Regions from separate parts of the Homo sapiens genome. Here region 2 is linked to region 1. The links come from fine-mapping of genetic effects on gene expression. A gene starts in region 1. The other region holds a variant in brackets. All regions are shown on one strand. Distances are between the middles of the regions. Region 1 holds the start of NAV2 (neuron navigator 2). Region 2 overlaps NAV2 (neuron navigator 2).

Region 1 (2,902 bases):
AAGACAAATAGTTTATAAACAGAGATGACTTTGGGGGAAAGCAGCAGTAATTTAACAACAGGGAAAATAAAGCCCAGCTTTTATTGGTCTCTTACATTGCCAGGTACTTGTGCTAAATGACTGCCATGCACCAACCATCTCATTTAATCCAAACAACAGCTCATTAGGTAAATGTCGTCAAGCCTCCACCTTACTACATGTGAAAACAGAAGCTTTATAAGCATGCATGTAAGCTTAAATAACTTGCCCACTTCTAATCCAAGCAGTTCTACAGGGTGGGAGGCTCCTCATTCATAAATCGCGAAGGCTGGCCTGCCTGATCATCTCTCAGTTTCCTTCTTATTCTCATCCACTTTCAGTCAGCGAGGAAACCACAGAGCAACCCAAACAGCGAATTCGAGTCGAGGAACCTGTTGGGGCCAGTGCGTCCCAGGCGCGGACAGGGAGGGGCTCCATGAAACGCAGCAAGGTTTGGCCAGAGCCTGCCGGGGTCATGGAGCCTCTCCCGGCTTCTTCAGGCCACTCTAATTACAGAGTCTGTGGTAGGTTGCGTGGAGGAGCTGTCTCGGGGCGGGAAGCTTCCCTGCGTATTGTATTTGCCTATAAATACTTCAAATAGTTAAGTGAAATGTGCAGCCTTTGAAAACTGGAGAGGAAGCCGTTGGGAGGCCCCCCGCCCAGCCGGCCTGGAAGAGCAGGCAGAGAAATGGCTGGCGCGCTCTTAAAGCGGGAGACGAGCTTCGGCCCTGCCCAAGCCAGATGGGGGCAGCGAGGCTGCGGGCGTGACTCCGGAAGACTCAAACCGTTAAGGTGACCGGAGCAATTTGAAAAAGGAAACAAACTTCCCTCGAGCCGTGCCCGCGTGGCTCTGGGGCGGACGGTTGCGTTCGAAAGGGCATTTTTCAAAAGAAGGGTTTCAGGAACGCAGGGGTGTGGGCCCCCCGGGAGGCGCGCGGCCGGGGCAGTGCCGCAAAGCGGCCACCAGCCCGCTTTGTACTCGCGGCCAAGCGCGGCCCCAGAGTTTCGGCGGCGGCCAGAGTTTAGGCCACACCCTCTTTGCAGTGAGACCCGCGGCCGCTGATTGGCGCACCGTGGACCAATGGGCGCGCCGGGGCGGCCCCGGCTGTCAGCGCGCGCCGCAGCAGCGCCGGCAGCAGCCTGTCCTCCCCTGCGCTGAGCCCCGCAGCCAGCGCAGCCTTCCCGGGAAGCGCGGCGGCCGCTCCCGAGCGCAGCCCTGCCCGGCCCGCCAGCCGCGCGTCCCGGCGCCCGCGCCCCACGGCCACAGCCTTGCCTCTATCTAGCTCACGGAGCATGTGCAGACCCGCAGGCGCTAAGGTGCTCTCAGTCCGGGGGCCTTCTGGGCAGCGGTGACTGTCACCCCAAGAGAGACCTTTCGGGGGCTCTTGCCGCACCTCTGCTGCGTCGCGGGTGACACTGCGGTGCTCGCGAGCAGGGTGGCAGCTGCCTCTCGGTGGAGACGTCTTGGGACCCTTGCGCCCTTCTTCTCTCCTTCCTTCGCTGCTGTCTCCTTTCCTTCCTTGGCTGCTCGCTCTTTCTCTCGCCGGCTCAGACCCGTAGCCTCCGGAACGGGACTCGTGGGTCGCCGCCGCCTCTGTCTCTTCCAAAGGGGCCTCCTCACTTCGGAGATGCAGTGACAAGTTAATATGGGCGTCCAAGCCTCTGTTTCCCAGGAGGAAATTTGCAAGAGGCGGCAGCCCCTGAGCGCCCAGAGCTCTTGAAAGGCCACCCAGGAGAGGTGTGAGACCCGGCGGCAGCATCCGTCCAGGTGGGACCCGCTGAGCGCCGTGGCCAGTCCCCCATTCCCATCCCGGCACCCCAAAGGCGCGCTCGCCCGATTGCTTCGAGTTCCCCGACCTGGGGATTTTTTTTTTAGCCGCTGGTGGTGGGCGCCTCGTGGGCTAAGGCCCGGCGCCTGCTCTGCTACCCGCGCTGCCTTTAGCGGTCGCCCCCGCCGCCGCTGCCAGGGACGTGCTGGGAAAGCCCAAGCCCCGGGAGAAGATGCCGGCCATCCTGGTCGCCTCCAAAATGAAGTCGGGACTGCCCAAACCCGTGCACAGCGCCGCGCCCATCCTGCACGTGCCCCCGGCCCGGGCGGGCCCCCAGCCCTGCTACCTGAAGTTGGGAAGCAAGGTGGAGGTGAGCAAGACCACCTATCCTAGCCAGATCCCCCTGAAATCGCAGGTGCTGCAGGGGCTGCAGGAGCCAGCGGGGGAGGGGCTCCCGCTGCGGAAGAGCGGCTCGGTGGAAAACGGGTTCGATACCCAGGTGAGAGATGCCGTTTGCCGGGGTACTGTTCTGGAAGGATGGATGAATAGTTCTTTCGGGATGGTGTGGGAGAAAGGGCTGGATGGGAGAAGGGTCTACCATGTGGCCAGGGAAGGGAACCATTCCCCTTAGGCCGGCAGGTTGGGGGATGCGCGAGGAGAGTGGGCCGGCCGGTGGGTGTGGCCCGGGTGCCGGAGGTTTGCCTTAAGAGCTCTTCGAGACCTGGGATGGCGGGCACGTCTGCAGCATCTTCCTGGGGAGGAGGAAAGGTCGGGATGTTCTCAAAAAACGTGTGCATCGCTGGAAATGTGAGGTCCTGCATGTTGAGGTCTTGGCCCCAAGAAGCCAGTATCCGCAGCAGCAGCTGTGTGTCTGTCTGGCGGTTCCGCAGAGATTCTGTTCCGGACAAGGAATGATCTAAGGCCCCATTGGGTTCGACGCCCCCTAGCCTGGCTGTAAGATCCAGGAAGAAAAGGGGATCGCGGGTGGCAGTGAACCTGCTCTTCCCTTGGCTTGAAGATGACCTGTCCCTGCCCCATCCTGCGGGGTGACGGGATTCCGGGCAAGGTGCTGGGACTGCGGTACTAGTGCACCAGCTGAGGCCGGCAGCTGGAGA
Region 2 (2,902 bases), 350 kb after region 1:
GCACCACCATGCCTGGCTAATTTTTTTACATTTTTAGTAGAGACGGGATTTCACCATGTTGGCCAGGCTGTTCTTGAACTCCTGACCTCAAGTGATCCGCCCATCTCAGCCTCCCGAAGTGTTGGGATTACAGGCGTGAGCCACCGCGCATGGCTATAGCTGTATGCTATTTACTTTAAAAACAGTAATTTGGGAATTTCTACAGGGAAAAAAAAAGTCTCTTTGTTAATTGTGAATTGGAAATTCTTTAGCCCTTAATCCCATGGAAACAAATGTTTTAATAATTTAGGTTTTGATAATGCCTGGTTTCTATATAGCAGAATACACTGTGTATAGCTCCTGGAAAATAAGAGGACACCCCAGAATCAAGTTAAAGATACCAGGGCCTAACTTAGGCCTGTATTGAGCAAACAAACTTCAGTGATTGCTGATATGGTCTGTTTTGAAGGACCTAGAAACCCTTGCTTCTACCCACCTCACCCCTCCAACTCTAAAATTCCTCTTTCCTCAGCTAGTCATCTTGTTTGAAATTTCATCACTAAGTCCTAGCTTTCCTTTTAAAGGCTTTATATAGAGTAACCTTGGAGAGAGGTTTTTTAAGCCATCATCTGCTAAGAAAGCATAGAGATGGTCTTTCAGCTGTCAGCCAGTAGATAAACTATGTCCTTTCTTCTAGAATGAAACTGTGGGATATGGGTACCAAGGCTGGTACTTTCAAACCTAAATGCACTTCTTCAACAGTATTTACTAGCACCATGGATATACCAGGCTCTGGACTAACCCCTAGGATATAATTTAGGAGAGAAAGGAGCCTGCTACTGACGGAGGAAGCTGTAGGCACCAGAGGGACATGGGACTCTAGCTTCACAGGACTGGCACAGAGAAGCTGTAGTGGATGTTTCAGTGCCCAGCCCCGTGTTTTCCCTGTGGCATTCCCAAGGGTTCTTGCCAACACAGAGGGGAGTGGGTTTTCCAGAAGAGTAAAAAAATGGGAGACTGGCCAGCATTATGCAGACTTGGAGGGAAAGAGCTTAAGCTTCTCAACCTGTGTGTCTTCAGATCTAGGAAACTGTCACATGCAGTTCCTGGGGGCAGCCCCTTCATGCCAACCACTAGAAGTCCTTACAGTAAAAGACTCTCCTTCAGTAGCTGTTGTTCTGGGTATGGGGACGTGAAGATACTGTTTTCATGAAATTTGAAATTGTCTTTTCTGAGCTAATATAAATTCAATGAATTAGTAAAGACCTAATAATAATACTTTTGAATTCCATTTTTATCTGGATAACAAGAGACCCGAGGTGTAATCATAGCGTTCTTCTCACCATATGACTTTGGACAAGTCATCTGGTTATTCAGAGTGTCTCCCCAGTTTTGCCCTTGGCATCAGGAAACCAAGCAAGGTGATCTTCTGAGGCCCCTACAATCTCTGACATTCCATGAGTCATGGAGTCAAAGGCTCCCATTTACTGTCCTCAGTATGCCTTCTCTGAGAATATAGGTTGCTTTTGCAGACTTAAAAAAAAATAGCCTATCAGTGGAATGTTTTTATGCTGGTGCTGTCTACTAATTTCAAGAAAAACTACAAGTCTGGCTAGACTCTGCTACCGCCTAGCACTGAGGTGTGGTCCTTTATCTGTTATTACATTCTTCGTGATAATGAAATTCTGAAACACATGCTCCAGGCACCTTTGTAAATGT[T/G]AAGGTGAATAAAGTATTTGTTTGTTGTCTGAAAAGAGATCTTTGAAATGTTAAGTTGCCACAGACCCAGACCAAGGAGCCTGCTGAGAGTTTTAAAGGCTCTTATTGGATGACAGTAGATTCTTTCCTTGAAATGTCTATAATGAATATTCAAGAATGCTCATTCTGCATGAAATTTGCAATTTTAATTATCAGTGAAAGAAAAGATTACACAGTGCTAAATGATTGCCATGGAAAAGTTATGGCTACCTCTTGGAGTAGAGAAAATCTCAAAGGCCACTTCTGGCATTAGACTTGCTTTCTTGTTTGGTAGGGAACACTGGAGTTCCCAGGAGAGCTGCTGGATGGATGGAGGCTAGCAGCTTCACATAGTGTTACCAGATGTGCAGAACAGCGGCAAGGGGGGCAAGATACAAAGCACATGCTTTCTCTAGGCTGCTGTTGATAATTGGGGCCCAACCCCAGAGACAGGTGGGCACAGTGACAGACAGTGGCAGAGGCATGGGGAAGGGCTGTTAGGGCCTGTCGATAGAAGTGTTTCAAAGTAGCCTTGTCCTATGTGGATGGCTAAGCCTGCTAACAGGCCTCCGCCAGCCTTCTAAATGTTAGATAGTGGTTACATTCTCACCATTAACTTGTACCCTTTGGATTGAACTTGGGGCTTATTTCTGGAAAGCCCCCGTGAGAATGTAACTATAGTAAAAGTGCAGGAGAATATGCCTAGGCTCTGGAGCCAGACTACTTTAGATCCAGTCCCAACTCTGCCACTTACCAGCTGTGACCCTGGACAAATGACTGAACCTTCCTGTGCCTCAGTTTCCTCATACACAAAACAGAAAGCAATAGTATTAGTACCTCCTCAAAGAGTTGTTAAAAGGATTAGATGAATAATGAATGTAAAGTGCTTGGAACAGTCTCTGGCACATGGTAAGCATTCAATAAATGCTAGCTGTTATTACCAGAATGCAGGCAACACAAGGTCAGGGACTTGGTCATGTTCACGGCTCTATCTTAGGTTCTTAAAAATAGTGCCTGGCACACAGTAGGAAATCAGTAAGTATTTGATAGGTGGTGGTAGTGAGGATAGATGGACAGACAAAGACAAATGAATATTATCTGGGAGGGAAGATTGAGCTCTGAAGACATCTTCCAACCTTCTCCTGAAAGCATTTCTTAGATAAGGAGGTTGTTCAGTGTGACTTTA

The links.
Region 2: its variant is fine-mapped to the expression of NAV2 in lung (TOPMed, PIP above 0.99).

The regions. Positions count from the first base shown.
Region 1 is chr11:19,711,677-19,714,578 of GRCh38, forward strand. It overlaps NAV2 (neuron navigator 2), which reads left to right and starts at 1,161. Exons shown (of 38, transcript NM_145117.5): 1 at 1,161-2,286. The coding sequence starts at 2,020. It overlaps LEISA1 (lncRNA enhancing IL-6/STAT3 signaling activation 1), which reads right to left. Exons shown (of 1, transcript NR_015384.2): 1 at 1-2,902. RefSeq lists silencers at 866-1,395, 1,036-1,229.
Region 2 is chr11:20,063,520-20,066,421 of GRCh38, forward strand. All of the region lies in intron 20 of NAV2 (neuron navigator 2), which reads left to right. Among named protein-coding and RNA genes, the nearest start is that of NAV2-AS2, 16 kb to the left of the region's middle. RefSeq lists an enhancer at 1,176-1,978. The variant T/G (reference allele first, on the strand shown) is at 1,699.